Linked DNA regions of Homo sapiens. The protein of the gene in region 1 purifies or fractionates together with the protein of each later gene. This does not show direct contact. Each region holds a gene or a part of one and is shown on either strand. Other genes may lie near its edges.

The links. The genes of interacting proteins can lie anywhere in the genome.
Region 2: the proteins of MAMDC4 (region 1) and ATP8B2 purify together in Homo sapiens (affinity purification with mass spectrometry; one large-scale study listed by BioGRID and IntAct). This does not show direct contact.

What each region holds. Positions count from the first base shown.
Region 1 is NC_000009.12:136,858,323-136,861,449, reverse strand, and holds the end of MAMDC4 (apical endosomal glycoprotein precursor), read right to left. Parts: intron 3,051-3,127; coding exon 2,904-3,050; intron 2,732-2,903; coding exon 2,597-2,731; intron 2,446-2,596; coding exon 2,318-2,445; intron 2,242-2,317; coding exon 2,133-2,241; intron 1,565-2,132; coding exon 1,386-1,564; intron 889-1,385; coding exon 847-888; 3' UTR 651-846; downstream 1-650. UniProt on the Homo sapiens protein: Probably involved in the sorting and selective transport of receptors and ligands across polarized epithelia.
Region 2 is NC_000001.11:154,335,469-154,339,118, reverse strand, and holds part of ATP8B2 (phospholipid-transporting ATPase ID), read right to left. Parts: intron 1,772-3,650; coding exon 1,575-1,771; coding exon of another isoform or gene 1,445-1,574; exon of another isoform or gene 1,273-1,444; intron 376-1,272; exon of another isoform or gene 317-375; intron 1-316. UniProt on the Homo sapiens protein: Catalytic component of P4-ATPase flippase complex, which catalyzes the hydrolysis of ATP coupled to the transport of phosphatidylcholine (PC) from the outer to the inner leaflet of the plasma membrane.

The DNA.
Region 1 (3,127 bases):
CACCCACAGCCAGGCCTCAGAGCCACAAGACCAGGCCCTCACCATGGGGCAGTGGCCAAGTCACCCACATGGAGGAGCAGAGCTCTGGGAGCTGAGGTTAGTGACGTTGACCCTGCGTTAGGATGGCAGTCCTCTGCTGGTGCCCCAGGCCCAGTGACAGCTTCACAGGGTCACCCTCCTGCTCAGGCATGGGGGCCAAAGGGAAGGGCTCAGCCGCAGCCTTGAGGCACCCACTTAGCTGGCCACTGCGACCCACAGCCCTGGGGCACCTGGTGACCTGGGTACTGTGACCCACAGCCCCTGGGGCAGCTCAGGCCTATACCACAGACAGTGGGCCCAGCTGGGGCACTTCTCCCTTCCAGGCCTGCTCCATGCACCCTGTCCCCTAAGGGTCATCTCCTCTGCATGCCCCTGATGCTGTGGGTCAGTTTCACTGTTGTCCTCAATAGATGCAGAGCCCCTAGCTGGTAGGGCCTGCCCCGGCCCTTGTCCTGGGTGGGTCTGTGTCCTGATGAGAGAGGGTCCCCTTGTCTCTGGTTCCTGAGCTGCATCCAGAAGCAAGCAGGCGCCCCTAGCACGTCACTTAACACTTGCAGCCCCCACCCTCACTGGCTGGTAAAGTGTGGACACACTGACTTCACCCTGGGAGCTTGGGCTGCCCTCATGGGCCAGGGTGTTTATTCACAGAGCAACAGAGTCAGCACAGGGCAGGGAACGCCCAGGCCTCAGCATATCCTGAGACCTGCAGCCTGTCCCAGCCTGGGCGGGGCAGGTGTCCGGTCCCTGGCTAGGGTCTGACCAAGTGCTGGATGTCACGTGAGGAAGCGGGGCCTTGTCTGGGGTGGTCTACGGATCACTGGTGACAGATGCCGGGAGGGTGACACCATCCTAGGAGGAGGAAGAGGAGCTTTTTTTTTCTTTCTTTCCTGAGACGGAGTTTCGCTCTTGTCAACCAGGATGGAGTGCAATGGCACGATCTTCGCTCACTGCAACCCCTGCCTCCCTGGTTCAAGCGATTCTCCTGCCTCAGCCTCCCGAGTAGTTGGGATTACAGGTTCCTGCCACCATACCCAGCTAATTTTTTCTAGTTTTAGTTGAGACGGGGTTTCACCATGTTGGGCAGGCTGGTCTCAAACTCCTGACCTCAGGTGATCCGCCCACCTCAATCTCCCAAAGTGCTGGGATTACAGGTGTGAGCCACCGCGCCCGGCCAAGGAGGAGGAGCTTTGACAGTGGTGGCTGGGAGAGGCAGGGCAGGGAGGGCAAGGATGGGCCTTGCACAGGTGGGGGCTCCTCCCCGGGGGGTTGTGTCCCGCCACTGCCCGCCCTCCAGCGTCACAGCTGAGCACAGAGGCTCCTGCCCACCCATCCCCAGGGGCTCCTACCGCATTGAAAAGGATGTTGTCAAAGCCAGGGGCTGTGGCCTCTGTGTTGCTCTGGAAGGGGCAGCTCCCCTTCTTCTGCAGCCAGCGCCGTCCCCCAAGTCCCAGCAGCACCAGGAGCATGAGCAATAGGAGGGCACTGCCAACCACAGCTGGCACAGACCCGGGTGCGGCTGTGTTCCCTGTGGGCCATAGGGACATGTGAGCCCTCCAAAGCAGCCCCCACATCTGGGGCTAAGGAGGAAGCCTGGGGCTGCATGGTCCCTCAGCCTCTGCTGGCTCCTGGGGTTCACCCCTATTTCAAAGGCAGAGGGTATTGGTTCTGCTACCACAAGGATGGGGCCTGGCAGACAGGCAGCTGCTGTCTGCAGACTTGGTGGGGCTCATGGCCCCAGGCGAGATTCTTTCCCTCACCAAGTGAGAGCAGTCAGTGGCTGCCCTGACCCGGCTGGCGGTTCCTCCAGGATGGACCTTGCCCTGGGTGTGGGCACAGGGAGCACAGAGGCCACAGCCAGGCAGGGCAGGCCCCAGAGGCTGCACCCCAGGGACAGCCCAGCCCAGGCAGCGGCCCCAGGGGTGAGCAGGGCAGAGTGAGGAGGGCACAGGGCCTGGGCCTGGCAGCTCTCTTGTCCTGTCTGGGTGCAGCATGCTCGCAGCTCCTGGGACCACACACTGGTAAGCCTGGCAAACCCCGAGCCAGGCTGGCCCCTTGGGCCCTCCTCCGTGCCTCCACTGCAGCCCAGGGCTCACCCGGGCTGGGGGCAGGCTGCTGGCAATGCTGCCCAGCCAGATACTCCACGTCATCCAGGGCAATGGGCCCCAGGGCTGGCTGGCCGCCCAGAGTGGCTTCAAACACGATCTGATGGAGAAGGAAAGGAGTTTGTGTGGGCCCTGGGTGGAGGAGGAGGAGGCTCCTTGCCCACAGCCAGCCTCACCTGGAACTCCTTGGCACTGGCTACCTCCACCTGGGCCTCCAGCCACTGGTGCCGCCGATGCCCGCCTGCGCCCCACACAGCCAGCTGGCCCTGAGCACTGTGCAGCAGTACCTTCAGCTCCCCCTTGTCTGAGAGCAGGGCCAGGGCGTGTCAGGCCTGGGGTCCTGGGGCTCCTGCACGCCTAACCAGGGGCGGGCTGGGGAGGCCACCTCCCCACCTCTGCTCCTGGACCCCTGCTGCCCCCGTTGCCCAGGCACCCATTGGCCCAGCCGGACTCACAGAAGTGCTCAGGAAAACCCATGTGGTACCAGAAGCGGAGGCAGGAGGCTGGGGTGGCCGGCAGAGGCTCGCTGCGCAGCCAGGCGGCCCGGCCCCCGGGGCCCAGCACGCCAGTTTCAAAGAAGGCAAAGTGGCCTGGGAACAAGAGGAGGCTGATGCCCAGCTGATGGGCAGAGCCAGCCCTCAGGGCCCGAGCAGAGGCTCGGTGAGCAGGGCCTCCTCTGGATGGGGCATGTACTCTGTGGGTGGGCAGCAGGAGGCCAGGTGGCTGTGTGTGCCTCCCCACCTGGCTCCAGTGGGCACGTACCTGCCTCTGTGCCCAGGGTGTGGTCCACAGGGGGCTGGGGGTAACGAGAGGGGGTGGCTCCCCCGCCCCAGTCCCAGCTGTATCCGCCCAGGCCGGGCCAGGCCAGGTGGCTCCAGCCACACAGGCCAGACTCAAAATCACAGGAACCTGCAGGACATGGGTGGGTGAGTGGTGCTGCCCCACGGCCCAAGCCCTGGGCACCACGACTACGAAGGGAAAGGGCT
Region 2 (3,650 bases), on another chromosome or scaffold:
TATGAACAAAAGATGGGAGACAGGACAAGTTTTCAGCACCTCCATAAAACATTTCCTTAAAAATGTCACAGGTTCCCTTATCTCAAGTGCAAGGCACTAAGCAAGAAAGTTCCTTTCCCCTGGCCATTCCTCCTGCCTCGTCTTCCTCCGATCCTCCCCTTCATTCTCACTGGCCTGTCCCTGCTAACATTCTCTTTACCTCAAACATCCTACATGTTGCCTTGATCCTATTCATGCTGTACACTACTGCCAGTCAATACTTCCTAAAGCATTCTTTAGTTTTTTTTTAGAATGCATTTTTTTCTTTTTGTGGGGGAGGGGTTCCAGTGAAAACTGGAAAACCTGCTAGACAAATTCTAAAAGAGCTGTAACACTTAGAATGCATTTTTAGAATACAGAATACATTCTTTTGACTTTCTTCAAAAACTTTTTTGTTTGTTTGTTTGTTTCGTTGTTTTTTGAGACACAGTTTCGCTCGTTGCCCAGGCTAGAGTGCAGTGGCGTGATCTTGGCTCACTGCTACCTCCACCTTCCGGTTTCAAGCGATTCTCCTACCTTAGCCTCCCAAGTAGCTGGGATTACAGGCAACCACCACCACACCTGGCTAATTTTTGTATTTTTAGTAGAGACGGGGTTTCAACATGTTGGCCAGGCTGGTCTCGAATTCCTGACCTCGTTATCCGCCCACCTTGGCTTCCCAAAGTGCTGGGATTACAGGTGTGAGCCACCGTGCCCAGTCTTTTCAATAACTTTTAATGGTTAGTAAATACAAAGTCCACAGGCAAATATTCAAAAGCCTCCACAATCAGGAGCAAGCTATGTTTCCAGCTCTTGCTCTTGGCCCAAGACCCTGGCCAACTATTTCCATAGGCCATTCCCAGGCTCCCATCTCCACACCTTTGCTTCCAGCCCTCTCAGCCTCCTCTCCATTGTGGCTCCACCTTCATCCAGCCCAGTCACCACTCAAAGCCCAGAGCAAATGCCATCTCTCCCTCTCTGCCTACCTGCTTAGGGAGCGACACTCTCCCAGTCCCCGGGCACCCTGTGCCTCCCACATGGTATCTCAGTCTGACACTGTCCAGATCTCCCCTCCTCGACCTATCCATCTGCTGCTGCTAAAGGCAGAGGCCACCTTATACATCTCTGTATCCCCAAGCTTCACATAGAAGACTCTAGGTCGAATTCTACAGCACTGGTTCCTATTTTGTTTTATAATGTGTTTAGATTTTCCTTCCTTTACTAGACGTAAGCTCCTAGAAGGAAGGAGATCCATTCCTAATTCATCTTTTATTTGTGATGGCACCTAGCACACTTCTTTGTACACAGTAGGCATGTAATAAATAGGTGCTGAATAAATCAATATTTTTTTTTCTCTAATACAGTCCCAAGTACCAGGAAACTGTGGTAAAAAGTTTGCTCTGCCCACAAAGATAAACAGATAACATCAAATGTTTACAGTACAGGAAGAAGAGGACTTCTCGTTACTTCTCAAGGACTTCATCTTCATAGAAAAGAAAAGTTCTATGGGACCGCCTGACTCCCTGGAGAGACCCCAGGTCAGAGAAGGCACATACCTGACATAGAGTGAAATGGGCACAACGGTGTTGAGGATGATGATGTAGGACCAGAAGGAGAGGAAGCCAGAGAAGAAGGCACTGTCCACTGCCTCATCCCACGGCAGGTAGACCTGGAAACGCATCCCCACCTCGTGCTCCCAGATGGCATTGCCAATGGCCAGGATCACCCCCATGCAAACCAGGAATCCAAAAATCTGGGGAGGAATGAGAAGCACAGGCGAGGCTGACATGTAGGAAGCCCTCAAAACCAAGTGCATCTGTGATGTATTCATCCCTTGAGCCCTCAAAAGCTCAGATGCTCTAGTGCAAGCTTGTCCAACCCATGGTCTCTGGGCCACATGTGGCCCAACACAGATTCATAAACTTTCTTAAAACACTATGAGATTTTGGTAACAGCTGAATGTTAAATGAAAAATAATTATAAAAAAAAAAAAAACTATTATGGGCTGGGCGCAGTGGCTCAAGCCTGTAATCCCAGCATTTTGGGAGGTTGAGGCGGATGGATCACCTGAGGTCAGGAGTTTGAGACCAGCCTGGCCAACACGGTGAAACCCCGTCTCTACTAAAAACATTAAAAAAATTAGCCAGTCCTGGTGGCACTTGCCTGTAGTCTCAGCTACTCAGGAGTCCAAGGCATGAGAATTGCTTGAACCCGGGAGGCAGACATTGCAGTGAGCCAAGATCATGCCACTGCATCCCAGCCTGGGCAACAGAGCAAGAACCTGTCTCAAAAAAAAAAAAAAAAAAGGCCAGGTGCAGTGACTCACACCTATAATCCCAGCACTTTGGGAGGCCAAGGCGGGCAGATCATGAGGTCAGGAGTTCGAGACCAGTCTGGCCAACATGGTGAAACCCCATCTCTCATCTCTACTAAAAATACAAAAAAATTAGCCGGGTGTGGTGGCGGGCACCTGTAATCCCAGCTACTAGGGAGGCTGAGGCAGGAGAATCACGTGAACCCGAGAGGCAGAGGTTGCAGTGAGCCGAGATAATGCCATTGCACTACACTCCAGCCTAGTGACAGAGTGAGACTCCGTCTCAAAAAAAAAAAAAAAAAATTTATGAGATTTTTTTTTGCAATTTTTTTTTTCTAAGCTTATCAGCTATTGTTAATGTTAGTGTATTTTATGTGTGGCCCAAGACAATTCTTCTTCCAATGTGGCCCAGGGATGCCAAAATATTGGACACCACTGCTCTAGTGGAAAAAGCTCAGAACTGGTGACAGGTTCTAGTCTGTCACCAATTATCATGTGGCCTTCTGTCTGACCATTATTTCATCTATATGATGAAGAAACTGAAATAGTTGATTAGCTCTCAATCTGGCACCTTGAAACCTTCCAGAGTCCTCAAAGTTGGTAAGAGTGGGGATGAGCTACTTTTAACATACCAGAAAACTTACTGTAAATAATCTATTCACCTGGGCTAGGTACAAGCCAACAAAAATGCCAAGCCACGGTAATGTTCACTATCTCACATAGATGGCCTTTTTTTTTTTTTTTTGAGATGGAGCCTTGCTCTGTCGCCCAGGCTGGAGTGCAGTGGCGCGACCTCGGCTCACTGCTGCAAGCTCCACCTCCCGGGTTCACGCCATTTTCCTGCCTCAACCTCCCAAGTAGCTGGGACTACAGGTGCCCGCCACCACGCCCAGCTATTTTTTTGTATTTTTAGTAGAGATGGGGTTTCACCATGTTGGTCAGGATGGTCTTGATCTCTTGACCTCGTGATCCACCCACCTCGGTCTCCCAAAGTGCTGGGATTACAGGCGTGAGCCACTGCACCTGGCTAAGATTGCCTTTTTTTTTTTTAAACTTGGGAAACAAACTTATCTTCATAAACGTAGATTTCTTTTTTGAAACAGGGTCTTGCTTTGTTGCCCAGGCTGGAGTGCAGTGGCATGATCCTAGCTCAACGCAGCCTCAATCTCCCAGGCCAAGCAATCCCCCCGCCTCAGCCTCCAGAGTAACTGGGACCACAGGTGCATGCCACCAAACCTGGCTAATTTTTCAGTTTTTTGTAAAGACAGGGTCTCACTATGGTGTCCAGGCTGTTTTCGAACTCCTAGGCTCAAATGAT